Regions from separate parts of the Homo sapiens genome. Here region 2 is linked to region 1. Evidence: fine-mapped expression QTL. A gene starts in region 1. The other region holds a variant in brackets. All regions are shown on one strand. Distances are from middle to middle. Region 1 holds the start of TBCCD1 (TBCC domain containing 1). Region 2 overlaps DGKG (diacylglycerol kinase gamma).

Region 1 (15,423 bases):
AGGCGGCACGGGCAACCAGTTAGGCTTCAGAACTGCAGTCGCAGCTCTTGACCAATTAGAAGCGGAGACGTCAGAGGGTCGCGCCGCTGCAGGAACCCGCTCTGCCTGAGCTACCGCGAGTCGTAGAAAATTACGTAATGATAGGGGGCCGGTCAGAGTGAGGGCACCTGAGGTACACGAAATCCCTCCGGCTTGCCCACTTCCTCGGACTTTCCACCAATCAGGAGCTTCCTCCCCAGCACCAACCAATTGTGGGAGAGAAGTTTTCTCTGTGCTACAAGCCCGGAATTTCATTCATACCCAGCTACGCTCCGAATGAGGGAGCAGAGGTACAGCGGCCGAATGAGCGGGAACAGTTATTCCACGACAGGTGTACATCAGACGCATTGCTTAGGCCTCTTATTTTACGTTCTCCAAGCAACTCCATAAGACAACTGTCTCGGAAAGGCTACAGTGATGACAGACCGACTTAAGTTCGGATTCGGCTTCCACCGCTTCTTAGTGGTGAGACCCCCCACCCCTCCCCTCCTCCCAAGTCTGAGCCTAAGTTTATCAACAAAACTGAGGCAAAGCACTTATTGGCAGTTCTGTGAATTTTAACAGGGAAAAAAATCGGTAAATCATCGGGCGTATAGTAAGCAGGCAACGAGTAAAAACCATTATTACGGTTCAAGCAGAACTCTTTGATTCCCCATCTTCCCCCCGATTTTGCTCATCGCAGTTACACAACACCTAGTTGATCAGGACAAAGCTCTAGGTGTTTTTATTCCTTTCATGCATAAGCTATCCAACTCTTTACCTCTGAACTATACTTCAATCTGTTCACTACATCTCCATTACCAGGATTCTGGGTCACAGTGTATCTCTCACCTGGCCAGGGCCTCCTAACTGGCCTCCTTGCCCCCACTCTTAATATCTTCCTTAATATCTTAATATATGTTGCTCATCCCTGTCCCTCACTCCATGATTTAAAAAAAAAAAAAAAAAGCCCGGGCGCGGTGGCTCACCCACCCAAAGTGTAATCAGCACTTTGCGAGGCCGAGACGGGCGGAGCACCTGAGGTCAGGAGCTTGAGACCAGGCTGGCCAACATGATGAAACCCTGTCTCTACTAAAACTACAAAAATTAGCCAGGTGTGGTGGCGAGCGCCTGTAACCCCAGCTGCTCGGGAGCCTGAGGCAGGAGAATTGCTTGAACCTGGGAGGTGGAGGTTGCAGTGAGCCGAGTTCCTGCCACTGCACTCCAGCCTGGGCGACAGAGTGACACACCGTTTCAAAATAAATAAATAAATAAATAAATAAAAAATAAAAGTCAAATCATGTCACTCCCCTGTTTAAAAGCCTGGAATGGCTCTTCATTTGCACTTAGAATAAAATCCCAACTCCATGCTAGTTTACAAAGCCGTTTATGCTTTGTAAACCTATTATACTCCTAACCATGCTCCAGCAAAACTTGCTTCCTTTCTTTTTTTTGTATACACCGAGCTCATTCCTGCCGAGGGCCTTTGTGCTAGCTATTGCCTTTGCCTGAAACACTGTACTCTCCCTCATGTGCTAGCATGGGTGATTCCTTCTTTAACTCATATATCAGCTTAAAGGTCGCCACCTCAGGGAGGACTTTCCCTGACCAATTAATCAAAATTAGCCCCTACTGAGTTCCTTACTCTTACACCACCCTGTTTTCTTTTCTTTATTTCTTTTTTTTTCCTGAGACAGAGTCTCGCTCTGTCGCCCAGGCTGGAGAGCAGTAGCGTGATCTTGGCTCACTGCAACCTCCGCCTCCTGGGTTCAAGCGATTCTCCTGCCTCAGCCTCCCGAGTAGCTGGGACTACAGGCGCACACCACCATGTCCGTCTAATTTTTTTGTATTTTTAGTAGAGACTGGGTTTAACCATGTTGGCCAGGCTGGTCTCGAACTCCTGACCTCAAGTGATCCACCCGCCTCAGCCTCCCAAACTGCTGGGATTATAGGCATGAGCCACCACGCCCGGCCTCCTATTTTTTTCATCCCTGGTCCCTAGACTTACACACTGAAATGCCAGTTTCATGAGAGCATGAATCTATATTGTTCTGTTCACAGCTGTATAAAAGAGCACCTTAGAACAGTGCCTGGCATGGAGTAGGTGCTGAAGTACTTTTGAGTCAAAGTTACTGGGATGGTGATCATTGTATGGCTGGCTTCTTACTCTTCAGGCCTCAGCTCAAATTTGGCACCACAAAGTGGCCTTCCCTGACCCCCCGCCCCAATTTTCATAGCATTTTTCACTATTTGAAATTATCTTATTTTATTCCTTAATATGTATTGTCTATTCTCCCTGTTATACACTCCAAGAAAGCAAGGACCTTGTCTGTTTTGTTCACTTCTGTCATTCTAGTGCGTACCACTGTGCCAGACACACAGTGGTACTCAACAAGTAACAGCAGGGTCACTGAGCTAATAAGTGGTGCAGCCTGGATCCTAACCCAGGTATGTGTAAATTTGAAGCCCCTGCTTTCAGGAAGATACCCAGTAGGGACAATGGCCACACAAAAGAGGAACTAAATTGCATTTTACGGTCTAATTTACCTTTGTATCTATCACACCTAGAGAGGCCATAAAGGAACTAAAAAAAGCAGGAAATGTCCAGAAATTCTGAAATGGAAGTTTAAAGGAAGGAGTGATGGCTTCTGCCCGGTAATCTGAAAAAGCTTCATGAAGGTGGAAACACGGCAGGAAAGCTAACAGAGTTAAGGAGCTGACACCGAGGGGCGGCAGGGAGTGCCAGTCTTGCTTCAGACGCCCTGGGCTTGAATCTTGGCTCCATCTCTTGTGTGACCTTAGGGTTGTGTTATTTTCACCTTTCTAGGCCCTAGTTTCTTCATCAGTAAAACGAATGTACTTAAAGGGCTCTTGACAAGACTTAGGAAATACACATAAAGTTGCTTTACACAGTGCTGAGACCATAGTAAGTGCTCTATAAATGCAAACTGCCATTAGTATTAGTAGCATTTCTGATGAAAGCGTGCTGATCTTACCAGCAGCTATTAGCTGACCACAGTTATGCGGAGCAACAGAAAGCTTCCTACCCCCCCGGGTTGAAAGGCGCGACACCAGAAAGCGGTGGGTCTGGCTCCAGGTGCCACTGTTGCGGACTCTCGACCCCAGCCTAGATTTTCTCAGACGCTTGAGCCGCAATCTGCCGCTCTAGCAACGGGGTCCGCCAGGTCTCGGTGGTGCGGGGCCTCGCGCTTGCGCAGTGGGCACGGCAGCGGCGCGCGGAGGAGGGTGAGGGGCGGGCCCAGCGAGCGGACGCCGGGCGCGGCGGCGCGCGGAGAAGTGCGGCGGAGCGGCGCCTGCATTAGCAGGTAACCGCGCACTGGGTGCGCCGGGGAGGGCGGTGTGGGTTAGTCAGGCTTCAGGCTTGGGTCGAGGAGGCTGCCTTCGCGCTTACCGCGTCTCGGGTCAGCTACCGACCCTGTCAGCGTGAGCGTCTGTGTTCCTGAAGTCCGGTCGCGACGCTGGGGCGGCCCACGCAGAGTCCCACCCCGGATCGCGTCCAAGGTGGCGGCGAAGCCCCAGGACAGCCGCCTTGGACCCACGCCGATCTCCCGACCTGAAAAACCTTAACCTCAGGGCACCGCCAGGGTCAGAGCCCCAGTTTATGTTTGTTTACGGATTGAGCCCTCTCGATTCTCGGAGTTAGAATGGAGGGCTCATCTCTGGGATCTGGCTGTTGACAGGGGCTCAGTACCTCACAGAGCAGCCTCTTTACATTTTGGAGAGAACCGAGGTCTTCCTCGCCTAACTTTTATCGTCTGGTTTTACTCAAAACGACTCCAGTCTCTCCACATTGGAAGACAGCTGCCTTTTGCCCTTCCACGCCCTTCTTTTGAGTTTACTCTCCCTGGTTCTTTCACCTGGCTTCCTGTCTAAGACTCTTTATTCTGGAAATTCTCTTCTGGATCCACTCCCGTTTTTAAGAGATTCTCCCAAAACTGGATTCCTAGAGTACATTTATAGTAATGCAGTTCTCAAGTCAGACCTGAATCCTAATCTAGAGCTGTGCCAGCTAAGTAGGTGTCCTTAGGGAAATCCCTTAACTTCGCTAAGCCTCATTTTTTTTTCATCGAAAATGTGTACAGTCTTAAGTACTGTATCTCCAGGTGGTTGTGAGGATGAAAGGAGGTGAAGTATGCAAAATCATGAGCATGATACCTGGTACATAGTAAGCACTCGATTGATGTCAGTTATTTTTCCGAACAGATGATTCTCGAGAGAGGCACAGTTGGCAGGCCGGGTGCGGTGGGTCACGCCTGTAATCCCAGCACTTTGGAAGGCCAAGGCAGGCGGATCACCTGAGGTCAGGGAGTTCAAGACCAGCCTGGCCAACATGGTGAAACCCTGTCTGTACTAAAAAAATACAAAAATTAGCCTGGCGTGGTGGCGGGAGCCTGTAATCCCAGCTACTTGAGAGGCTGAGGCAGGAGAATCGTTTGAACCTGGGAGGTGGAGGTTGCAATGAGCCGAGATCGAGCTATTGCACTCCAGCCTGGGCAACAGAGCGAGACTCCGTCTCAAAAAAAAAAAAAAGAGAGAAGCACAGTTTTCTTAGAATCAAATGCAAAATATAATAATAGCAATAAAATTTTCATCAGTCATATAATTGATTTTTTAAATTAGTTTTTATATTTTTAAAAAAATGATGTTGCTAATGTTGAGGAGTGCACAGTGAAGTAGGTACCAGAGTCAAAGGATGGTACAATTTGATAAAATCATTTGGAAGCAACAAGGATATATTTCACAAGCTTTAGAAATGTCAATTACTTAATTTCACAAAAGTACATCTGAAAATTTTCACACAGAAATAATTCGTAATGCAGAAAATATGAAGAAAGATGGTAGTGATAGCATTATTTACACTTGTGACAACATTTGAACTTTTGTAATGAAATTTTTTAACATACACAAAAATAGAATCAGTGAGCCCCCCACGTACCCATTACCCCACTTCAATAATGATCAGTATTTTGCCTATGTTGTTTTTGTGAAAAATCTGAAACCTAGTAAGGTGTCTAAAAATGGGAGAAGAGTTGAATAAAATGGGATACATTTATTTAGAATACTATAAAGCTTTTGAAACAGTACAGAATTGTGTATGTAACATCACAACTGTGAAAATTCAAAAACTAACATCTAATTTATGTGTAGAAAAAAGACAAAGAGGCCAGGCATAGTGGCTCAAGCCTGTAATCCTAGCACTTTGGGAAGCTGAGGCGAGGGATCACTTGAGGTCAGGAATTTGAGATCAGCCTGGCCAACATAGTTAAACCCCATCTCTACTAAAAATACAAAAATTAGCCAGGTGTGGTGGTGGACGCCTGTAGTCCCAGCTACTGGGGAGGCTGAGGCATGAGAATCGCTTGAACCTGGGAGGTGGAGGTTGCAGTGAGCTGAGATCATGCCACTGCACTCTAGCCTGGGCAACAGAGGGAAACTCCATCTCAAAAAAAAAAAAAAAAAAAGAAGAAGAAGAAGGAAATACAATAAAATATTAATTTGTTGCCCTTTACTTGTGGGATTGTGGATGGTTCCCTGTTTTTGTATTTTATAAATATTCCATAAAAATCATGTATCATTGTTACAACAAAAAAAAATCTAAAAAATCACACCTGAACTGAGCAGGATCAAATATGCTAGAGTGGGTTCACTGTTATAGAGAATAAAGATGCTGTAACTTCTCCTGATCTATTCTTGCAGTCTACATTTACATTAGCATTCTTGCCTGCTGCCTCACATTAGCACTTCATATTGAATTTATATGCTCAGCTAACATGTCCAGATCTTTAACCAACTGTCTTCTGTGTAAGTGATTTAACTCTGTGAAATGTATTTCCCTTATTTTGAACAGTGTTCCCCCTCAGAGTAGAAAAAGGTTTCCTGTGATAGGATGACTTTTTTCCCCTCATTCATTTTCTTCCTGGGATCTCACTCAGACTTCATGCATCTACACACACTTCCTAAAACAAGGATTTCTAACAATTCAAGTAAGATAATTTTGTTTTATCACAATTTTTTTCTCAGATTATAATGAGATCTGATTAAAAAAACTGTTCTGCTCTTGGTTGGTGAACTAGAGCTGCCTTTTAAGATGATGATGTAGTACATATGACACAGTTGAGAGAGAGGGGTCACCTTCCAAGAAAAAATGCATAAATGAGACTTGTTTCAAATCAGTTTATGAAGAAACTTTGTTTCCTAGGTATGCAAAGAAGCCTTTTCACCCTGATGTCCTTAGAGATAATATGGATCAGTCCAGAGTTCTCCTCTGGGTGAAAGCAGAACCCTTTATAGTGGGTGCCTTGCAGGTCCCCCCTCCATCCAAGTTTAGTCTTCACTATCTCAGGAAGATATCCACCTATGTGCAAATCCGGGCCACAGAAGGAGCTTACCCGCGCCTCTACTGGTCTACATGGAGGCACATCGCTTGTGGGAAGCTGCAGTTGGCCAAGGACCTGGCGTGGCTTTACTTCGAAATATTTGATAGTCTTTCAATGAAGACACCTGAGGAGCGCCTGGAATGGTCTGAGGTTCTGTCCAACTGCATGTCTGAGGAGGAAGTTGAAAAGCAGAGAAATCAGGTACGGATTGATATGTGTGTATACTTAATTACTTTTGGAAAGAAACCATTCTTTTTTAAATTAAAAAATGTTTTTGCTTATTACAATTTTTAGATAGAAACAGAGTTTCACTTTGTTGCCCAGGCTGGTCTTGAACTCCCGGCTTCAAGCAGTCTTCCTGCCTCGGCCTCCCAAAATGTTAGGATTACAGGCATGAGCCACCATGTCTGGCCCAATAAACCATTCTTAATTTTTGTATTAGCTGTAAAATTTTAGGTTTTAGGCTAATGGCCATTGTAATCTCAAGTTATCATTTGAGTTTTAGTAGTTCCAGTTTGGCAGTATTTCATGTATTCAATGAATTAGTCCTTACTTACCAGACCTTACTCACCTACTCCCAAAGCAGTAATGTTACAGAGACCCTGTTATTGAAAAAGGGAAATATTTTACTGACTTTAAAAAGATTTTGGGGTGAATGAGTGTTATGAACAACTGATATGTTACAGTCAGAGCACCTGACTATTTTAAAATGAACATCTGCTACATGATGGGATTCAAAGATGATTAGGATAGCATCTCAACCCTCATGGAGCTTATGGACTAGTAGAGGAAGCTGGTATTAAAAAAAGATGCTATTTAATAGTGTGATATGTATAATAAAAGAATACACAAAGTACAGAAATTGAATAAAGAATGATTTATTTCAGTGATAAGGAAAGACTTCACAGAGAAAGTATATTAATCAAGTAGGCTGATTATAGTAATAGACAACCCAGTATTTCAGTGGCTTAGAACAGTAACAGTTTATTTCTCATTCAGGCAGCAATCTAACACAGTTGCTCCTGGTTGGACAAATCTCTGGGCTGCTGTCATCCAAGCGATGACCAGGGATCCATGCTTCTATCACTTGGAGTCACTGTTAATCAGCTTTGTTAAAAGCTGATTTCATTCATTAAGAACAAACAAATGAAATTCCAGTGGCTTACAGGGGAAAAGGTTTATTTCTTGCCCATTTTACATGTGGGCTTCATTTTTGCTATGGCATTTGTCCAGGCTCCGTGTTTCCCCATTTAGGGACACAGGCTAAAGAAATAGCTTCTGTGTAGATCATTCCCATTCTTATAACAGAAGGGAAGATCAACAGAATGGAGGAAACTCATGATGTCTCTTTTTAAATTCTTATTTTATGTATACAGCTCAATCAGTTTGGGGATAAGTATATGCTGTGAAACCATCATGACCGTCAAGGACATAGACATACCCATCACCCCCCATAGGTTCCCCCTCCTCTTTTATGCTTGTTATTTTGTGTGTGTATCTGTTAAGAACACTTAACATAAGATCTACTGTCTTAGAGAATTTTAAGTATACAACATGTAATTGTTATCTCTAGGCGGTATGCTGTAGAGTAGATCTTCAGAACTTAATTTTCTTGCATAACGGAAACTTTGTAGCCTTTGACCATCAACCTCCCCATTTCCCCCTCCTCCTAGCCCTTGTCAGTCACCCTTCTGTCTGTTTTTATGAGTTTGACTATTTTAGATTCCACATATAAGTGAGATTACATAGCTTTGTCTTTCTGTGTCTGGCGTGTTTTACTTAGCATAATGTCCTCCAGGTCCATCCATGTTGTTGAAAATGGCAGGATTTCTCTCTCTTTCTGTTTTTAAGAGACAGGATCTCACTCTGTTGCCCAAGCTGGAGTACAGGGATGTAATCATAGCTCACTATAGCCTGGAATTTCTGGGCACAAGCAATCCTTCCACCTCAGCCTCCTGAGTGGTTAGGACTACAGGTGTGTGCTATCATGCCTGGCAAATTTTTGTATTTTTTTCATAGAGGTCAGGATCTCACTGTGTTGCCCAGGCTGGTCTTGAACTCTTGGCCTCAAGTGATCCTCCCACCTCAGCCTCCCAAAGTGTTGGGATTACAGGCATAAGCCACTGTACCCAACATGATTTCTTTCTTTTTTAAGGCCAAATGGTACTCCATTATATATGCATGCCAAGTTTTCTTTATCTAGTCATCCATCTGTGGACATTTAGGCTGCTTCCATATCTTGGCCATTATCAATAATGCTGCAATGAACATGGGAGTGCAGGTATTTGCAGGATCCTGATTTCAATTCCTTTGGATAAATACCCAGAAGTGGGATTGCTAGATCGTATGGTAGTTCTCTTTTTTATTTTTTGAGAAACCACTATACTATTTATTTATTTTTTTTTTGAGACGGAGTCTCGCTCTGTCGCCCAGGCTGGAGCGCGGTGGCGCGATCTCAGCTCATTGCAAGCTCCACCTCCCAGGTTCACACCATTCTCCTGCCTCAGCCTCCTGAGTAGCTGGGACTACAGGCACCCACCACCATGCCCGGCTAGTTTTGTGTATTTTTTAATAGAGATGGGGTTCACCATGTTAGCCAGGATGGTCTCAATCTCCTGACCTCATGATCCGCCTGCCTCGGCCTCCCAAAGTGCTGGGATTACAGGCGTGAGCCACCGCGCCCGGCCCTATTTTTTATAATGGCTGTACCAGTTTACATTCTCACTGACAGTGTACCAGGGTTCCCTTTTCTTCACATCCTTACTAATACTTGTTAATCTTTTGTTAACAAGTGTGAGGTGATATCTCATTGTGGTTTTGCTTTATATTTCTCTAATGAGTAGTGATGTTGAGCACCTTTTCGTATACCTGTTGGCCATTTGTATGTCTTCATTGGAGAAATGTCTATTCAGGTCCATAGTCCATTTTTTAATTAGGTTATTTGGTTTTTCTTGCTATTGAGCTGCAGGAGTTCATTATATATTTTCGATATTAACCCCTTACCAGATACATGGTTTACCTTTTCTTCTGTTGATTGTTTCCTTAGTTGTGCAGAAGCTTTTTAGTTTGATATAATTCAACTTATTTTTGCATTGGTTGCCTGTGCTTTTGGTGTCATATCCAAACAATCATTACCAAGACCAATGTCAAGGAGCTTTTTCCTTATTTTTCTCTAGGAGTTTTACCATTTCACCCCTTACATTTAAGTCTTTCCTCCATTTTGAGTTGATTGTGTATGGTATAAGCTATGGTCCCAATTTCATTCTTTTGCATTTGTAGATCCAGTTTTCTCAGCATCATTTATTGAAGAGACTATTCTGCGTTTTGTATTCTTGACACCCTTGTGGAAAATTAGTTGACCATATATGTGTGAGTTTGTTTCTGGACTCATGATGCCTCTTAAAACTTTTGCTCAGATTTGACATAAACTAAGACTACTTTTATTCCATTGGCTAAGGCATTATTCCCATGAAGATGGGAAGGTAAACCACCTTTCAGGAGATAAGGAAAATCCCATGGCCATGGGTAGGGCTGTATAAGCCTCTTAGAGAATTTGAAAGTGAGCAATAGTAAATAATAATACAATTTGCCACAGCCATGCCCACTGGGGCCTCAGAGTCCTTTTGCTTTCATTTCTTTTGAGAGTTTTATTATTAGGCTTGAAAGTGATAAAGATAAATTCATTCACATTCAGTTGCTGTAATTCATTTATGCCATATCTAACTCCAAAGGAAGATGGGAAATGCCATCTAATTACATACCCAGGAAGAAGAAAAAAAGTAGTAAGCATCTAGCAGTCTCTGCCTTATAGGGTCATATCTAAACAACGTTTTGGAAATTGAAAAGTTTATCAAGCAATGAAGAGGGAAAGGGCAGTACATTTATTCATTAATCAAATATTTATTATCTACTATGTACTCGGTATAGTAGTGGATGCTGGGCATATAGAGATGAATAAAACCTTCAGGAAGTTCCAGATTTTTTGAGTGCTTTTTATGTACCAGATGCTTTGCTAGTTACTAGGAGTATAAAAATGGAAAAGGCAAGGATCCTATAGTCTCCATGAAGAAATAATGATAATGTAACAAATAATTGTTTAAAATGGAAGTATATATAAAATCAGGGAATTACACTTAGTGAAAAAAGCCAATCCCAAGAGGTTACATACTATATGATTCTATTTACCTAATGTTCTTGAAATAATAAAATTATAGAGATGGAGAACAAGTAAGTGGTTGCTAAGGGCCTAAGAAGGGGTGAGTGGGACAGAGAAGTGCATATGGCTGTAGAAGGGCAACATGAGAGATTGTTCTGTTGATGGAAATGTTCTCGTATCTTGACTGTATCGGTGTCAATATCCTGATTGTGATATTGTCCTATAGTTTGGCAAGGCGGGTAAAGGGTACATGGGATCTTTCTGTGTGAATTCTCACAACTATATCTCAATCTACAGTTATCTCAGAAGTTCAATTAAGAAAGTAAAAATTTATAAAATATACAAATTCATGGGGCTTCACATTGTTAGTTGATTAAATAGGTCTGGGTGATCCTGAGAATCTGTACTTTTAAGTTTCTCAGATGATAGTGTTTTTAGCCAGGTTGGGAATCAGGGTGAATATAGCTGTAGACCCAGATGTATTACTTTACTTTTTTGCCTCTCCTGTATGGGGGTGGGTAGATGAGGGTAATCAGGGGCTTCAAGTCGTGAGCTTCAACCACACCCTTCCTTGAATAAGAAATGACTATACATCTATCAGACCAACAGTGTTTTTGTCTTTAAGTGAAACACCCCTTTAAGAATTTGCTGAAAACCTGAGGCCTACTCCCTTGAAAAATGCACATATACCAAAAAATTACATACAATTTCAGGTATTGCACTGGTATCCTAAACTTTCTTGACAGGTTTGTGAGTCTTAAGTTAGACCTCTGTCTTAACTGAATTTTCTTCTTTCTTACTTCCATCTACTTATTTATTCAAATTACTAAGGTTGGTTTTTTTTAAATTGTAAGTTTAAACTTCTGAAATAATGTACTTAAAGTATGTACTACATCCTTTCATCAGTTTTGAGAGATAATTTCTATAGCCATAGATGTTATACAGCTTTCTGTGAAGGTAAATTATTCCACTTTAATTAGTTTTAGGAACTCTTGGCCAGGCACAGGGGTTCACGCCTGTAATCCCAGCACTTTGGGAAGCCAAGGCGGGCAGATCACCTGAGGTCAGGAGTTCAAGACCAGCCTGGCCAACATGGTGAAACCCTATCTCTACTAAAAATACAAAAAAATTAGTTGGGCGTGGTGGCACATGCTTGTAATCCCAGCTACTCAGGAGGCAGAGGCAGGAGAATCTCGCTTGAACCAGGAAGGCGGAGGTTGCAGTGAGCTGAGATCGCATCATTGCACTCCAGCCTGGGCGACAAGAGTGAAACTCTGTCTCAAAAAAAAAAGAAAAAGAAACTCTTACATCTGGGTACCAGAGACATACATATCAAAACTGGCAATGTTTCTAAGTTGGTTTTTTTAGGATCAGCCAACTTGTGAATTTACTATGTCTACTTAGTTGTTAGACTAGTGGTTGATGTTTTAAAACGTCTATTCATCTTTTATTTTCTTCTTGGACAGCTTTCAGTGGACACGCTACAGTTTCTGCTCTTCTTATACATTCAACAGTTGAACAAGGTCTCCCTAAGGACATCTTTGATTGGCGAAGAGTGGCCCAGTCCCAGAAACAAATCTCAGTCTCCTGACCTGACTGAAAAATCTAATTGTCATAATAAGGTACTCCTTATATCTTGATCTCATTCTCTAAAAGGGACAATTTGTGTGGGAGATGGTTCACTTGCATTAAAAATTATGATGAGATTTCTTACATAAGCCAGTGATTTGATGGCTTGTTTTGTTTTTCACTTTTTTTTTAAATTATAAAACAAAATCAGTGTGTACAGTCTTAATCACAATAGAGAACTGGTTGCAGTGCCTTCACTGGTAGGAAAACCACTTGCTGATTTGTGGGCAGATCATCACTATGTTCAATTAGCACTGCCGTTTTCAACATGTCAATCAATGCGAATCAACTTATGTGACTAAGGAGCATCAAGAAGATGGAGTGCTTGCAAAATCTTTTGAAATCTACTGAAAAAAATTATAAAAATATCTTCTCATGTTGTTTAAGTAATTACATACGTGACAACCCAGAAGCTAAATTTAACTGCCTCACATTGTGAATTTTAGAGGATGTCTTATTGCTTTTTTCTTTCTGTTTTTGTAAAGAAAACCAAAATATTTTTACTTGTTCTTGTGTAAGTATATTGAAAAACTTTAAGTAAAATGTAGGCCTCAGTATTAATGCCATGTACAAGCTCTTTAAAAATGTTCTAAAGCTAAGAAAAAATATCTCTTTGCTATTTGGAACTTTTCTAATCTCCTTTTTAATAAGTCTCTCCTCCTTTATATTCCATGATGCTATTACTCTTGGTTTTGCTTCTAACTCTCTCTTCTCACTTTCTTTCATAAATTTCTCTCCCCTGGCCCTTACAAGCAGCTATTCTGTCTGGGTCAATTTTCCCTTCTCTCTTAACTTATTCATTCAATGTAATTCTTTATATTCCTACGACTTCATATATCTCAGTGACTCCCAACTTTGTGTCCTTCCCAGAGCTCTTGCTTTATAGTTACCGCTTTATATAGATGCCCTAGCTATAGCTTAAATTCAGAATGTTCAAGCCCAGATGTATGAGAGATACCAGTCACTACCTCTCTCTCCACATGTAGTTCCTGCAGAATGGGCACTGTTAGGAGATGGTGTTTTGAGCCAAGGTAGCCTCCATTCATTTCTGCCTCTATCATTTATTATCATTTAGTCATACGATTTTAGGCAAGTCAGTTAACTTCTCTAGGCCTTGGCTTCCCTTCTGTAAGTGAGGATAATAATGCATGTTTCTGAATGACTATGAGACTTCAGTAATATATTAGCATGGGACTTATTGCATAGTAAGCACCAATAAATGGTGACTTTGGTTTATACTACAGCACGACCTCTCTGAGTAACTGATTGGACCGGGGTGGACACTTGAGTAGCCCATTTATTGCTATACATTTGAAATTGGCCAGATTTAAAGTGACGACCTGGGCCAGTCAGTTCCCCCAGGAAGAAATTATGCATTGGTGATAGGTGTTTGAACTAAAAACGCATTTGACATTGGGACTGGAATAGCCATCATGCTTGTTAATGAACTGGAATTCTAAGGGATTAGAAATTCTGAGGCCAAGCCGGGCGGATCACCTTTATAAGGTTTATATAACTACCTAATTCCTTTTGGGGGATGAGGCAGAGTATAAATACAAAATAATTAAAATATAGAAATTTTAGATCTTGTGGAATCTCTTTATTAAGAGTGCTTTCTTTTAACTTTTTTTTAGAACTGGAATGATTACAGTCACCAAGCTTTTGTCTATGATCATCTGTCTGATCTCCTCGAGCTGCTTTTAGATCCAAAACAACTCACTGCATCATTTCATTCAACCCATAGTAGTCTAGTGTCTCGAGAAGCTGTTGTGGCGCTCAGCTTCCTTATTGAAGGTACAATAAGTAGAGCCAGGAAGATCTATCCACTTCATGAACTTGCACTGTGGCAACCACTGCATGCAGATAGTGGCTTCTCAAAGATCTCTAAGACTTTCTCTTTCTACAAACTGGAAACCTGGTTGAGGTCCTGTTTGACTGGGAATCCATTTGGTACATCAGCTTGCCTCAAGTCTGGAAAGAAATTGGCTTGGGCTCATCAAGGTATTTTTTAATATTTTAATCTACATTAAATTGAATGACAACTTAAGGAACCTAGTGTTTTCTAATATATTAGTGATCTCGTGTCTTCTCTAGAAGACCTAAAAAATACTGCTCCTATAAAAGAGAAAAAGGAACATCTGTCTTTTGTGCATGACTTTTTCTCTCAAGGATTATACTAAAATATTAAAAATGATAGTAGGATTACAAATTATTTTTATCTTCTTTTACTGTTATTTTTCTAAATAACCATATATTATGTACCTGGTACATGTGTAATAAAAGTAAACGTATGTAATAAAAATAAACAAGAAATGTTTTAAAAGAAGAAGAATAATAGCATACTCATGTGACCTCCCAGTATTTCAGCGGTGTTGTTTACAAGGGTGTCCCGGTGGCTTGCAGGGAGGTACAGTCTGAGAAGGCAGTCACGTAACGGTGTGACTGTGTTAGGAGAACCTGCGCGTATTTTTTGAGTGTCAGTTTGTGCAACACACTGTGTGGGATAGGAAGATGTGCTCTCAGGTAGTAATGATCTTAGGAGTAAAGACATGAACTCAGGCTGGGTGCGGTGGCTCACACCTGTAATCCCAGCAATTTGGGAGGCTGAGGTTGGCGGAAGGTGAGGAGTTCGAGACCAGCCTGGCCAACATGGAGAAACCTCAGCTCTACTAAAAATACAAAAATTAGCCAGGCGTGGTGGCATGCACTGGTAATCTCAGCTCCTCAGGACGCTGAGGCAGGAGAATCTCTTGAACCTGGGAGGTGGAGGTTACAGTGAACTGAGATTGCACCACTGCACTCCAGCCTGAGTGACAGAGTGAGACTCCGTCTCACAAAAAAGAAGAAAAAAAGGCATGAACTCAAATAGGATTAATGGGATAATGTGGTAAGTTAGGAAGGGTACAGAATTAATATTATGGTAATTTAGAGAGGTGAATTACGTTTGGGATGATAAAGTAAAGCATCTTGGAGGAGAAGATATTTGAGTTAGGACAGCTTTGCCACTTACTAGCCATATGACCTTAGGCATAGACCTTAACTTGAAGCGTAGACACGAAAAAGTATCTTAGACTTATAGGCAATCTTAAATTCATTATAGGTTTTAAAATTTTTTTTATAACAAAAATGAAAATTCCAAACATACAGAAAGGAATAGAGAATAGTATAGCAAATACCTCTATCCAAAGCCCAGATCTAACGTTTTTGTCCCTACATGTGGTA
Region 2 (15,423 bases), 250 kb after region 1:
AGAAAATGAATGAAGGCACTCAGACAGTAGGAATGTTAGGAAAGAAAAGAAGAGGCTGGAGAATGAGGCTTAAGGTATGCCTCTATCAGGATTCAGCAGAAGACACAGAGAGAAGAACCAGAAAGGCAAGTAGGTGGAAAAGAGTGCAGCATGGAGGGCGCAAAGGCAAGGAGGAGCTCCAAATGCAGCAAAGCCGCTGAGCAGGCGGAGGGATGAAAAGGAACCAGAGTATTCAGTAGAAGAGGGTTGTGTTGGGGTTGGGCCTTTTCTTTAAACATTTACCTTTGTCCTTCTCTGACCCTTGCTCGTGTTGTCCATGTCGCGGGACTGGATGAGGCACTCTGCTACTGTTGTTCGAACAGGAGAGGAAAAAAAGATACAATTCTTACAAAATGATTAATCCTCAGAGGAAACCCTGAAAAAGTCATTCCCACCAATTTTAGACACATTCTGGTGTTCAGTCGGATTGCATTGCCATAGCAACCACTCTTCCGTAACCACATAAACAGGAGCTTTACAATAACAAAATAATGAAGTGTACAGCCTGAGAATTGAGAACTTTCTCCAGTGGGGTTACCAGGTAGGAGAGGCTCTTGTTGTTTTCCATTTATATAGTGTAAAGTTGGCACCTTCTCTGGTGACCTTCTATAGGGTGAGGGTGGGGCATCTTAAAACTGCTCTTGGAGACAAGTAACTTAACTTTGTATGTAAACGTACATACATATACACACAGACACACACACATATAGCTGACAGTAAGTTTGTTATCAATCTACAATGTAAAGTACTTATCAAAAGAGCTAATGTGATATTAAGAAATTTGTATTATAAAACGATGAAATTTAAAGCTACTCATGATTCTATTTTCCAGTGATAACCAGCACTAGCATGTTTATGTATAAATATAAGTATAAATATAGATATCAAAATATGCAAGCACATATACATATATACACATATACAACATACACATGTAAAACAAACTTGAGAATATGCATGTTGTGCTATTTTGTATGCTGTTTTCTTTCCCTTAACAATATGTTTCAGTTACCTATTGCAGCATCAAAACAACTTCAAAACTTGTGTGCTGAAACAACCACCATTTTGGTTTCCCATGAGTCTGTGGGTCAGGATCCTGGGCAGACATGGTGGGCATGACTCATCTCTGCTCCACAGTGTTTGGACCTTCAAGGGGGAGGCCTCAAACAAGTGAGGACTTAGACCATCCGTCATGGCTCATTCACTCACATGGTGGGACCTTAGTGTTCCTTCATGGAACCTCTTTCTCCAGCACTTTCTTGTCTTCCAGGGCCTCTCCATATGTCCTTTCTTTTCAGCAGGGTAACCTGGAAATCTAACATGTCAGCTCAGGGCTCCAAGAGCACAGAAGAAGCTGCTGTCAGATCTTTTTAGCACCTGGGATCAGAGATCCTAGAACGGAACTCCCTCCACATTCCACTGGTCAGTGCAGTCACAGGCCTGGCTCACATTCAGTGAAGTAGAGGAACGGACTCCACATTTCAGGGAGGAGGGACTCACATAGGGAGGGAAAGAATTTATGGCAGCCATCTTTGGAAACTGGCTAGCACACAATATCGATCATGAGTCATTCCCACATCATTCTGTACTCTTCAGAAGCATAGCTGTTAGCGGTTGCAGAGATTTTTTTTTTTTTTTACTACATTTGTACTATTTCATCTAACCAAATCAGTCATTGCAATCTTAGGCTGTATTCATAGACTCACAGTGCCTAGTAAGGCAAACTGATATCCACATTCTAGCCTACCCTGATAGACCGTCAGACCTCTCTAGAGAACTGAATTTATTTATGGTCACTATGGTTTACGATGGACATGGACAACCTGGAACTTGTTTGAGAGTTGGTAAGGGGCCTCACAACCACATTATGGAGAAATGAAGATACTGTGCATATTTGTTGGAGAAGGGAAGGGAAAGGTGAAGAAGAGCTCGTTGTATTAAAATAGCTCAGTACTGTTGTGGGAAGAGGTGTGTAGTTAATTTTGAATGGCTTCAAGAGGTAGCCCTAGGACTAATGGGAGGAAGTTATAGGAAGTCTTTAAAGTGTGGAATACATTAATTACTAGTGGTCAAATCTGCCCAAGATGGAATCGAATTGACTTAAAAGTGACTGGGTTTCCTTTCCCTGGAACTGTCTGGGCAGAGAGTTTGTTTGGACACTATAGGGGAGATAACAGCTTTAGTCATCTGGTTGATTAAATGACCTTCATTAGCTCCTCCAATACTTGGTTTCTATATTTAAATAGATTTCTACCGCAGAGGGTGTGTGCATGTGGGGATGCCGCCTACTGACCCTCTTCCTAACAATAATTGCTGGTGGCCATTGGGGGGTGGGCATTTTTTCTTCAATTTTTTGTTAATTCCTTAAAAGTTCCATGATGCCTCAAGGACAGAAACTATTCATTTATTCAGAAAGAGAAAAAAGGAAAAACAACTGAAGAAGCATCCATTAAACTTTTAATTCTCTAAGAAATTAAACCAAACATTTCCTACATCAGCCAGCAGTTGCTTGGACTGTGTAGAACTTTTTTTTTTTTTTTTTTTTTGAGACGGAGTCTTACTCTGTCACCTAGCCTGGAGTGCAGCGGCGCGATCTCGGCTCACCACAACCTCCGCCTCCCGGGTTCAAGCGTTTCTCCTGCCTCAGTCTCCCAAGTAGCTGGGACTATAGGCTCCCACCACCATGCCCAGCTAATTTTGTATTTTTAGTAGAGACAAGGTTTCACCATGTTGGCCAGGCTGGTCTCGAACTCCTGACCTCAGGTGATCCACCCGCCTCGACCTCCCAAAGTGCTGGGACTACAGGCGTGAGCCACCGCACTCAGCCAGAATTTTTAAGTTGGGAAAAATCTTAACCATATCAATGCCAAGCATTACACATTTTAAAACTGAGACTACTACGTCCAGAAGAGCTCAGTGACTTGCCCAAGGTCATATAGAAAGAAGGTCGATAGTAAAATAGAAATTAGAACCAAAAGTCCCTCAATTCTAGTACAAACTCATTTGCTTCAATTCAGCAACAACAAATTAAACAAAAAGTACCCACTGGAGCTCAACCTTCAAACATACATTAATGTGTGTGTGTGTGTGTGTGTGTGTGTGTGTGTGTGTGTGTGTGTGTGTGTGCAGATATGTATATGTCAATTAAATTACATTAAAGCAAAATTTTAAGATGTAATTAAAGAGAATCAATCAGTAAATTGTGCTATTAGGAAATATATTTCTTTCGAATCAGATTATGACAAAGTTTCTGACTTTAAGATGTAGTTACAGTTCAAAATACAAAACTGTCAGAGTCAGAGAACATATTTAGGGCTGATATGTAGAACCATAGAAGGCTCTAAGTAAATGTCACTAAAACCTTGCTATTTATGCTGGCCAGTAGAGTGAGACTTGATCAAATGCTCATGAAGTCCTGGGCCCATGAAGGGTCATATCTAGTTGCTTCTATCTTGGAAGGATAGCCATAACTATTTCTCACCTACATGTGTTTCAGCACCACAGACCTTTTTTTCTTTTAACGATGAGTAGGACTCTGCCCACCAGGAGTCACAGAATCTACGGATAGGGAGGAATTTCTATGGAACAATAGCTCTCAATGTTTAATGTACACATGAATCTCCTGGAGAGCTGTTGAAATGCAGACTGTGAATCAGTAGGTCTGGGGTACTGCTGAGAATCTGCTTTTCTAACAAGCTCCCAGGTGATGCTGATGCTGCTGGTCCAGGGACCACACTTTTAGTTGCAAGATGGTCCAAGTTGTCTGATCCATTCCTCCACCTTCACTTGAAATACGACTGATGAAGCCAAATTATTTGGAGAAAAGGTGAGAAAATGTTCTAGCAATACAAATTTTACTTACACAAATAAGTCATACCAGTGATTCAGATCATTTATGACAAAAAAATTGTGTCTTAAAAAACGTTTTATTGCTATTGACCCCAATTTCCTCTGCTTCTATATAAAGTCTTTTCTTATTATTTCATATGTAACATCTGTGTCAGAGCCATCACTTCCACATGTCAGTGGTCCTCAGCCTCGGCTCATGTTCAAATCACATGGAAGGCTTGGAATACTTCCAATGTTCTGCCCACACCTCCCAGATCATTTAATCACAGTTTGTAGGCAAGGGGCCTGGGCATCAGTATTTTTTAAAGCCCTGCAAGTGATTTCAATAAGCAGCCAAGGTTGATAACCACTAGTCTACCTTTTCTTTCCATACCCCTGAGAATATAGGACATGTGGGACAAGTGTGACCAGCTCAATCCCTTTGCTAGCCTTCATTTATTCAATAGATCTTTCTTGAATATCTATTTTTTTTGCCAGGCAATGGGCTGCATGCTGGGGATGAACAGTGAGCAGAAACAAAGTTTAGATGGGAGAATATGTGTGTAGCAAGTACATCCGTGCTTATGAAGCTGGGCTTCTCCCCTGTGCTTCCCACGTGCTGCTCTGAGGCCTGACTCCAGCTGGCTGAAGAGGTGGGCCTTTTGATGCAGTGCTCTTGGCCCTGGCCCTTCTGTTTTGACATTTTTCAGGACCCTCACAAAACTCTGCTCTTGTTTTTGTGCATCTCACTGTATAACTTCCTAGAGTAATTAGAAAATGTATTCTTACATCCCAGCCTTCACTGGAAGAAGGAAAATCTAGATTTTATTTTTTTGCTCATGCGCCAACTTTCCCTTCCCCTCGTCTCAGTGACTCCCCCTGCCCACCACTTATGGTCTTTCTACTCCATTGAGTATGTTCCTTTGTCCTCGGCATCGTGGTCTTTTCTGGGTTGTGACAGGCAAGCCTCAGCAGTCAGCCCCAGATCCACAGGGACATTGCTTAGAGCCTGCGTATCAAGTGAGGTCCGTGAACCTGCAAAATTGGTGTCACTTAGGATCTTATTCAGAATGTAGAATCTCAGGCTGTGGCCCAGTCCTACAGAATCTGCATTTTTACCAGATCCCAATGTGACTCATACGCACATTACAGTTTGAGAAGCTCATAGAGAACTTTGAGGAATGAAGAGTTATCATGTACCTTAGAATTCCACTCTCATATATGGATTTTCAGATTCACTTTTGAAAATGTTGATTTATAGTTTTTTCGGAGTTTAACAGTTTAATGGTCTAATGCTCAAATACTCTGTGTTCTTTTTTTTTTTTTTTTTTTTTTTTTTTTTTTTTTTTGAGACGGAGTCTCGCTCTGTCGCCCAGGCCGGACTGCGGACTGCAGTGGCGCAATCTCGGCTCACTGCAAGCTCCGCTTCCCGGGTTCACGCCATTCTCCTGCCTCAGCCTCCCGAGTAGCTGGGACTACAGGCGCCCGCCACCGCGCCCGGCTAATTTTTTGTATTTTTAGTAGAGACGGGGTTTCACCTTGTTAGCCAGGATGGTCTCGATCTCCTGACCTCATGATCCACCCGCCTCGGCCTCCCAAAGTGCTGGGATTACAGGCGTGAGCCACCGCGCCCGGCCTACTCTGTGTTCTTAACTAGACAACAGACTATAAACTTTGGGGTCTAGTCCTGGCAGCACAACTAATATTCTGCTGTAAACACTGAAGTCTCTGATTTGTCTGCTTGTTCAGATGGAACGCACCCCTGTCCCACACTGACAAGGCAACAAAGGTGTCTGTGTGTAGGGCCAAATTTTTCCCTTTAAAAGGCTTTGAATTTGCTCAAACACTAGGAACAGTGCTTGGTTTAGGTCCCAGAGTTCTTGGCACATAAAGTATAGAAGACAATTTTGGACTGAAAACTTCTTAGGGCACTGGTAACCTTGATCAAAGAGAAAAACTTTCTGAACACCCGATTTAGGACAGAACTGTATGTGGATAGTCCTGACAGTCTGGGTGAATGCAAAACATGCTCCTACCTTGCCAAGCAGCTGAACAAGTTGACCTGTTGGGTAGAGTTCTTTGGTGTTGTCCACTTAAACAATGGATAATGTCTGCCAAGCACAGCAATTTTAAATTTAGAAGTTATAAGCTTTTTTTTCCCTTGGCAATAAGTATTCAAGTTCAGGGGCTTTTTAGGACAGTCTTCATTTACAACAATAAAATCATGTCCTAGAATGGCAGTCCTCAACCTTGACTGTACATCTGAATTCCAGGAAGCTTTTAAATTATACTGTGTCCTGGGTTCCTCAAGAGATGCTGACTTAATTCACCTGGGGTAAGACCTGGGTTACAGTGTGTATAGAGCTCCCCAGGTGATTTCAACATGCAGGCAGGTTTGAGAGCCACTTTCATAGAGGAAGAGTCCTGGCTTCTAACTTACCAGTGTTCAAGTATCCAGTGAATCCAATAACCATGGCCTATGATTTAGAAATGTTTAAGAAGTGTGACTTACGAGCTGTCTCCTTGAAAGAATCACTTAAATTCCATAAGCCTCGGTTTCTTCTCTAAAATAAGGATAATTATTACATTAGAGGGTAGTTGTGGGGATTTAAATAAAATATATAAGGTGACTAGGACAGCGTCTAGCATATAATAAGCACTCTACAAAATGGGAATTGTTACAAAGAGCTGTGGAAATGGCCCTATTTTCTACAGGCAGAAATGGAACAAGGTGTCCTCTGAATCTAGTGCTGGTATTATGGTAAAGGCTTTGACAAAGGAATTTTCTGTGAGGTTATACTATTGGACCCACAGATGACACCTAAAATAAGACCAAGGGATGCTATTCCCTCGTTGTTCTTTTCTGTCTTAAGATGAAACAGAATAAAGCAGCTGTCACTGAAGCAGATTAGTCATGCATAATACCTACTTACTCCTCATGGAAAAAGAAACCCAACCCAGACATCTATTAAGAAGAAAACTGTTATAAAGTATATAAGGACATCCAAGGAGAAAGTAATGTGTCCCAAATTTGAGAATTAAGTTGATTCCCTTTTTTAAAGGGTATTGATACTATAATCCTATGAAAGCCCATAAAGCAAATTGAAGTAAATGTGTGATGAGTAATCCACCTCACGGAAAGCTAGTTAGAAACCTCCTGGATTCTTGTTGTGTGTGTGTGGTTTTTTTTTTTTTTTTTTTTTTTTGAGACGGAGTCTTGCTTTGTTGCCAGGCTGGAGTGCAGTGGTGCGGTCTCGGCTCATTGCAAGCTCCGCCTCCTGGGTTCAAGTGATTCTCCTGCCTCAGCCTCCCAAGTAGCTGGGATTACAGGCACGTGCCACCACGCCCGGCTAATTTTTGTATTTTTAGTAGAGATGGGGTTTCACCATGTTAGCCAGGCTGGTCTTGAACTCCTGACCTCGTGATCCGCCCGCCTCAGCCTCCCAAAGTGCTGGGATTACAGGCGTGAGCCACCGCGCCCGGCTGTGTTTTTTTTTTCCATTTAATTTCAGGCTATTAATCAGATATTTTAAAATAAATGTCTTTTCTATTTTTTTCTTATTAAAACCTCAGTTTATTTTATGCGAACATATGATGAATTTATGTGTGTATATATATCACACATTTAAATATAAAGCAGGATTTTTAAAATAGAGCAGCAGCTCTTTAGAATCAAAGGAATTCTGCTACAGTGAATGGTGGAATATCCAAAATGAGATGAGAACATCAAAATATCATATATTCAATTGAAATTACTCCACTGGTTCTCAATCAAAATGCTAACTCTACACTCTTCTTGCAGAAGTCACACCAGGGGTACTCATGTTCTCAGATTTTTATTTTTTTTATTTAGCCATTTTGGCTGAGCTAACAACCTCCCATTAAAATAGATTCTAAAATGTAGGATTTGTTTTCCTAAATAATTAAGCTGCTTGTGGAATAACATATATGTGTGATGTTAACTGAGCTCTGGTCTCATTCTAACTTCTCTTTCATCCTGTTTCCAG[A/T]GTGGTCTTTAGAAAACAGAGAGCTGGTTATATTATTTCACCACTCAAAAAAATCTTTAACCATTTCAAATCAATGTTCTTAACTCTACATTCAAGACCCCCACAAATCTAGCCACAAATGACTCTCTGGTTCTGACTTGTCCTAAACGTTTTATGGTGCCCATCTCTGCACCGTTGCTCCCTTGGTCTCTTCCGAGAATACCCTTTCCACTTCATATCTGCCTTTATAAACCTTACCCAATTCTTTATGCCTCAGCTCAAATGCTACCTCCTTTATAGGGCAGCCTCAGTTCCCACCCCTACCCCACTTTCATCTTAATTTTTCTTCTTCCCAACTTGGTGTTTCATAGAACTTCATATCATTGTGTCACCCTTAATTACACCTTTCTTTATGTTAACAAATGTTTAGGAAGCTATAGTGAATAATGCTCAAGGGAAAAGACCATACACTTTTGAGCCAGACTAGACCTGAGTTACAACCCTGGCTCTTGAGCAAGTCGAATTAATTTTTCTGAATTTCAGCTTCTTCATCTGTAAACTGAAGAAAATACTTGCATGGATTAGTAGAGGAGAGTTTATGAGACTATGCAGGTGAAGGTCTCCAGTAAGGGACAGCTATTAGTACCACAGTTATTTAGATCATCTTTCCCACTAGTCCATTAACAGTATCTTGCCGCATCTTACCCTCCTTAGTGTTTTCTGAATTGAATGGAAGCAGCCCAAATTGACAGCATCTGCTGCCTGGCTCTTACTGAGCTATTAGTTTTTCAACATCTGTTTTGAATTTCAGAAAGAAATTTCCATTTTTAGGCAACAGAAGCATTTTCCTGTTGTATTTCAATATGTCTCAATCCTGAAATGATTAGAACTTCTGCTTGATTGAATCCAAGTCAGCAAAGCCATGGAGAACAGCCCAGCCCACGAATATGTCTACTTTACCTAGGCTTAAGAGACATTAACCCTCTGTACAAAGAGCCTGGGCAACAAAAAACACTGTGTGAGCTTTTAATAACATCGTCCTTTGGCTCAGATGTTTAAATAGCAACAATAATGGAGCTTGGAAAGCTCTTAATTACCCACAATATTGGAAGAGAGGGATAGCCAAGGTCAGAGAAACCCTGGTTTGCTTTGATGTCTAGAGTGCTGATAGCTGCACAAGATGCATTCATAATGTGTTTTTAATAACAATTATTGAGTCTCTTTTCTGGATTCCCAATTCCTTTATAAAATTCCAAAAAGAAGCAGCCAGTCTTGCCTCCAGTTGCTTCTGAATGATTTCCTATGGAAAGCAGCATTTTCGAAAACACCATGTTTGATGAATTATCTGAGTCTTTCTTTATCCCCTTCCAAAGTAAATGCAACATAGAGGGAACATTAAGGGGAAATCATGGCGGGGGGTGGAGGCCTCAACTTTCAGAGGAAAATCTTCTGGCTGTCAGAAATATGTGAGAAATACCATGGGAACATAAAATCAACCATGCTAATTATGAGACATAATTGAGGTTATGTTTTATGTGTCAGAATGAGTAGCTCAATTTTATCCATCAAGATAAAAAATAAAAATCAGGTAAAAAAAAAAAAAAGGGACAGAGTTGTCAAGATTCCAGAAGTAGAAGAAACTATCTTGCCATAGTGTACAACAGTGTTTCAGCACCAAGGACAGAGCCTTATGGGGTTTAATGCCCACTCATCCTACATACTTAATGAATTTTTAATGTTTTGAAATTTTCACTCAGATGTTTATATACTCATCTACATATTGTTTTTCTGAGCCCTAGTTACACGTCAGACCTTAGTATGATAGACAAAGACTCACCAGCCAGTTAACAGCTCTCAAGGTAAAGCTGAAGCAGGAGATGAGCAAGATAGGCAAGTTAATAAATAATTATAACACTATATGACAAGCACTATTACATAGTTGTGTACAAGTCACGTGGGAGCCAATGAAGGGAATGCTTAACTCTGACTGGTGCAAAGGAAGACTTTACAAAGGAGTTGACATTTGAGCTGGATCTTGAAGAATGAGTGAAATTTGCAAGACAGAGAAGAAACATCATGAGAGAGTGCACAATATGTTCAGGGATGTCTGGAAATGTAACTTGATATGGCTGAAACGTAGAGTAAATAGGGAAATGAGGAATAGGATAAATAAAATCACCAAGGGCTGGTATTCCAAGTTAAGGGCTTATCTTCTAAGCTAAGAATGGTAAGCTTTATCCTGGGGGAACAGAAAGCCCTTGAATGGTTTTGAGTAGGGATATGATCTGATCAGATTTGTGTTTCAGAAAGATAATTTAGATGCAGGGGGGAAGTCAGATGGAAAAGAAGAAGTGAGAGGACAAAGGGTAGAAGAGGGTGACATTTCTCCAGATTTTCTGGGACTGAGGGGCAGCTCCAACATAAACATGGTTACACAGGGAGAATTTACTTGGCCCAGCTTCCATTAGCTATTTGCCAGTGTTTCACATGTGAATTGTGTCTCTTCAGATTCCTCCAAGAAGATAAAAGATGCCTTGACTGAATTTAATGAGGGTGGGAGCCTCAAACAATATGACCCACATGAGGTAAGAACATTTCCATTTTAAGCCTTTAAAAACCCCTGTGTTTTTTAGCCTTTCCATAATTTGTTTCCCTCTTGGAGACTCCGCTTGCCTTGAAGAACTTGCTCCTCAGCATGTTTCCTCTTAAGTCTCAAGTGAGCCATTTGTGCTACCTGGCATTATATGTTTCCCAAGCCCATACACTCATTCCACTGTCCTAGAAGACTACCACTACTTCTCCTCTGCTCATCTCTCACCCCTCCTCTCCTCATCCTCAGTTAACAACTGAGTTTTCTGCTTCACTGAAAAAATAGAACAAACAGAACAGATCTTTCACAAGCTCCCTCACCCCATAGGCCCACCTATCTGTACCTTTTCTTCTATAACCAGAGATGACCTCTCCATGCTCCTATCTACGTCCAACTCCCCCACGTGTGCACTCAACCCCATCCTCTTTTGGCCTACTTACAGGCATTGCTTCAGCAACATATCTTCCCCAGACTCCCTCTTTCCCTCCCTCCTCGTCCCTCCTTTTCTCTATATCTCTACCTCTGTCTCCTTCATATCAGCTTTCTTCGTATATTTTATTTTTCCATCAACATGTAAACATCCTGTTATTTCTTCTATATTAAAAACATTTTCCTGACTCCACTTCCTCCTCTAGGTACCACCTCATTTCCCTCCTGTGTTTTACAGCGAAACTGTACAAAATACTTCTCTATACTCATTGCCTCCAAATTCTCTTTTTCCTACTTTCTTGAAATGCCTTGCATCAGTCTATAACCTTCACTCTTCCACTCAAATCACTAGTCAAGATAGCCAAGGGCCTCCCTATGGCTAAATCCAATAGCAATTTTGCTCAACAACACTGGACACGGTTGGTCAAGTCATCCTCCATTTTCTTCACTACATTCTACATTCTCCTGATTTCTTCTTATCCTTCTACTTGACATTTACACTTAAAAATCAAATGGGCATCTCAAACTTAACATGAGCTAAACTGATGTGTCCTTAATCTTCCCCTATAAAGCCTGTTTTTCCAGCAGTCTACTCCATTTCAGTAAATGACAACTCTACCCTTCAAGTTATTCAACCTGAAACTATGCAGTCATCATCAACTTCTGTCCTCTCACATCCCACATCCAATTCATTGGCAAATTCTGTTAGATCTACCTTCAAAATGTATCCAAAATATAGACACATCTCGCCACTTGCACTGCTAGCATCCCGACCTGAGTCATCACCATATTTTGCCCAGATTATTGCAAGAGTCTCCTAACTCATCTCCCTGCTTCTGCCCTTGCTGCTTCAGTCTATTCTTCACACACATCCTGAGCAATCCGTTAAAACTTATGTCAGAGCTTGTCACTGCTCTACTCCACAATCTCCCATGGTTCCCCCAATCCCTACTCAGAGTAAACATGAAGGTCATTACAAGCTGCACCTCCCCCAGCTCTCTGACCTCATCTCTTGCTACTCTCCCCATCTTCATTCCTTTTCAGCATATTAGCCTTCTTGATGCTATCAAATAAGCCAGTGTCACCGTAACCTCAGCACCATTGTGCTTGCTGTTACTGTTTCTTAAAATGTTCCTCCTCAGCACATCACATTGTCCATTATCTTACCACCTTCCAGTCTATGCTCAAGTCACCTTCTCAGTGATCATCACCTTCTTCATCTAAAACTTGAAGCCCTCTTTCTGACATTTCCTATCCCCCTGCTCTGCATTATTTTCCTCCTAAGTACTTCTCACCACCTGTCACACTATATAATTTACTTAATTAATTGTCTGTCTCTCCCACTAGCATATTTTTGTTCACTGCTGTGTCTTCAGTGCCTGGAAAAGTATCTGGCTTATAGCAGGCATTCAATAAACATTTGTGGACTGAATAAATGAATGCAAGATCTCCCCCTACTTTCAAATTCAATGACTCTAACATTTCTTGGGCTTCTATGCACTGTACTGGGCACTGTAGAAGGCATAAAAATATAGAAGCACAGTTCCTGCCCTCCAGGACTTACTTCCTACTGGCAGGGTCAGGTTTGAAAGCCATGACCCTGGAATTACATGGTCTTAAGTTAGACTTCTACCTCTGCCATCAACAAGTGGTCTTGAATAATATTTCATATCTTTGAGCCTCACTTTCCTCATCTATAAACTGTACATAACAAAAAAAGCCTCGAAGTTTGTGGATGAGTGAATTAAATGAGAGGATCTTTGCAAAGTGGCTAACATTCTACAAGCACTTAAAAATCTGTACCTATTATTATCCCTCTTCCATCCCCTTTCCCCAGAATGTTTTTAACTCAATTCCCTTTTCCCTGCTCCTGAGTCCTTTTATGAAGACTAACCACAGAAAAGTGACTGATCTGCAGGATTCACTTAGGGAGAGACTGGCCACTTTCTTATTCACGTTGTCATCCATTGAACAAAACTGAGTCAACACCTTCTCCGTTGGACACTGGAAATGAATCAACAGAGCCTGTGCCCTCAAGGTACACCTAAAAGGGGCTTTGGATAAAATACACCAGTTGCAGAGAGAATGAAGCAGGAAGAAGGTTGCCAGAACAGGGGCGAGACTGAGAATGCACCATTTCAAAGAACATTCCTGAGGAGAAACCATGCAGAGAAGATAGCAGAGCCAGCAAAGAACTCACTGCCCCACACCCCCCACCCCCAGCTCCAAAAACACGGGAACAAAGCCTGGCGGCGGCTGCTAATCAGCTTGTCCGCCCTGGGGCTGATGAGTGGGAGAGGAACAGTTTGGTCAGGGCCACTGCAGGTGTGGAGGCCACAGGAGCTTTCAGAAGCAGGGAGTCGCTTGGCTGCTATGAGCACGCAGCCGCCCTCGCCTCTGTCGGGGCTGGCCCCCACTTTTTGTAATGCCAGGCACTGCTGGGTCCCAGGGAGCTCTGTCACTCTGATTTCGTTCTCTCACACAGTGCAGCTGACTTCTAGTAGGTGTAATGTCATGGCACAGGGTTAGGGAAATAAGAAGGGTTTAATTTCTCTTGAGTTTGATGGCTTACTGCTGCTAAAATGTCTCAATGAGAAACGAGTTAGCTGTGGGAAGGGGCAGATTGCTAGCAAAGGTAGGATGGGAATAAAACTTTGCAGAGTGGCAGAGCTGCATCTGGCCGTGATGAACATGCGCTTGCCCATCAGTACCAAGTGATTCTCTGGAGAATAGAGTGGTGGCAGACAGCTAGAGAGTGGGCAAAACCCAGAAAAGCAAAAGAGGCAGGTGGCTTGGTGGCACTGTGAGCCTGGACCCAGACACCTGATCACAAAGCCCAGCTCTGCCACACGCTTTATGATCTTCAGCAAGTTATTTATGTTGTCAAAATTTGTTTTATCCCCAGAATGACAGTAACAGTTCTTCCCCACACTGCTGTCTTGAGAATGAAAGTGCCGGATGCCTGCTAAGCTCTCCATCTAGTTCTCTCTTCTTGGTCTGTGTAAGGATTAACACACTCTCTTTAAGTGTGTTGCAGCAGGAGCAAATTGCCCAGCTAATTCCTGCATAAAAGCTGCTGGGGAAAAACAGAGTTCCTTTGGCCTGAACCATGAGTGTGCCTGGGATGTTAGTCCAGGTCTCAGAGAATTGCCAGCATGCCTCATAGTGGTTGGTCATCTGGTTTGGGCATGACCCCTAGCCACTCCCTAGTTAGTCTCTCATCATGCATTTACTAAGCAGCTACTCTGTTCCTGGGCTGTGCTTTTAAAGAACTTTTGTATAACCCAGATATCACCTTGAGAGTGTGGCACATCGTTGCATGTCTTTGCCTGCTGAACATGGGATACTGGGAGGGAGTGTCAGGGAGCACTATGCCAGCTCTGGACCCTGTGACAGATATAGTAGCAGGAGCACTGGACAGGGAGTCAGGAGGTCTGGCTTCTGGTTTCACTCTGCTGCTAGCTCGCTGGGGCTCATCACTGAATTTCCTGAGCCTCGGAGGCATCAGAAGACTGAGTCCCCTCTGAGACTCTTCTGGTTTGCATGTTCTGTGCTTCTGGGTTTATTCTGTGCATCCTGTTCTCTAGGATGGGGACATGCATGGTTGGATGAGTTCCATCAGTATTATTTTCTAAGTTCTCATAACAGTTTGTCAGCTCTTTTCCTATGGCACTCGCCACTGATGACCACACATTGCAATTATTTCAATATCTTTACCTCTTATATAACACTGACTCTTTGAAGATACGGACTCATGCCTAATTCATTGGTGCCCAGCACTGTACTGTGCCCTGCACTTAAGAGGCTCAAGATATATAGATATATAGATATAGATATAGATATAGGTATATACACACACATATATACACATAAATATATGTATGTGGGTATATATATATACATATGTGTATATATATATATATATATACATATGTATATATATATATATATACACATATGTATATATATATATATATATATATATATATATATATATATATATATAGCACATTTCCCCCCTTTTTCCAATCTGTGTCTTCTTCAGCAAATTGTGAGTGGAGATACATATATCCATTCAATCTATACATAGACTGAATGGATCCCATAGTAGTTGATGACATCCAGGGACCAGGCACCAGGCTATTCCTCAGGTGCACTGATTAGGACACATCATCCATTCAAATACCTATGAAGAACCCTGTGGTAGGTGGTGTGGGGGATTCAAAGATGAAAGGAGACATTCTCACTACTTCCAGGAGCTCTGGATTGAGTAGAGGAACCAAGGTCTGTCACAAACAACTATATATCAATGCAGAGCAGCACATATGAGTGTCACAAGGCAGGAACCAAGGTGCCAAGTAGGGAAATTCAGGGACAGACGATCATAAGGCTTTCTGGAAAAAGTGGAATCCGGGTTGGGCCTTAAAGCATGACTGGAACTTGAACATGTAGAGATGGAAGCAGTTCATGCAGGGTAGAGTGCATGGAGGGTTGCTCAGGAAAGAACACAGAGGTCAGCATGGACAGAGTGCATACACGCACATGGGGAAT

What was found. PIP is the estimated chance that this variant, and not a neighbour inherited with it, causes the effect.
Region 2: its variant is fine-mapped to the expression of TBCCD1 in thyroid (GTEx, PIP 0.97).

Annotation. Positions count from the first base shown.
Region 1 is chr3:186,555,188-186,570,610 of GRCh38, reverse strand. TBCCD1 (TBCC domain containing 1) reads left to right here and starts at 3,272. Exons shown (of 8, transcript NM_018138.5): 1 at 3,272-3,344; 2 at 6,239-6,617; 3 at 12,039-12,194; 4 at 13,836-14,202. The coding sequence starts at 6,282. RefSeq lists a silencer at 3,079-3,368.
Region 2 is chr3:186,301,916-186,317,338 of GRCh38, reverse strand. It overlaps DGKG (diacylglycerol kinase gamma), which reads left to right. Exons shown (of 25, transcript NM_001346.3): 3 at 10,362-10,438. Among named protein-coding and RNA genes, the nearest start is that of DGKG, 53 kb to the left of the region's middle. The variant A/T (reference allele first, on the strand shown) is at 7,875.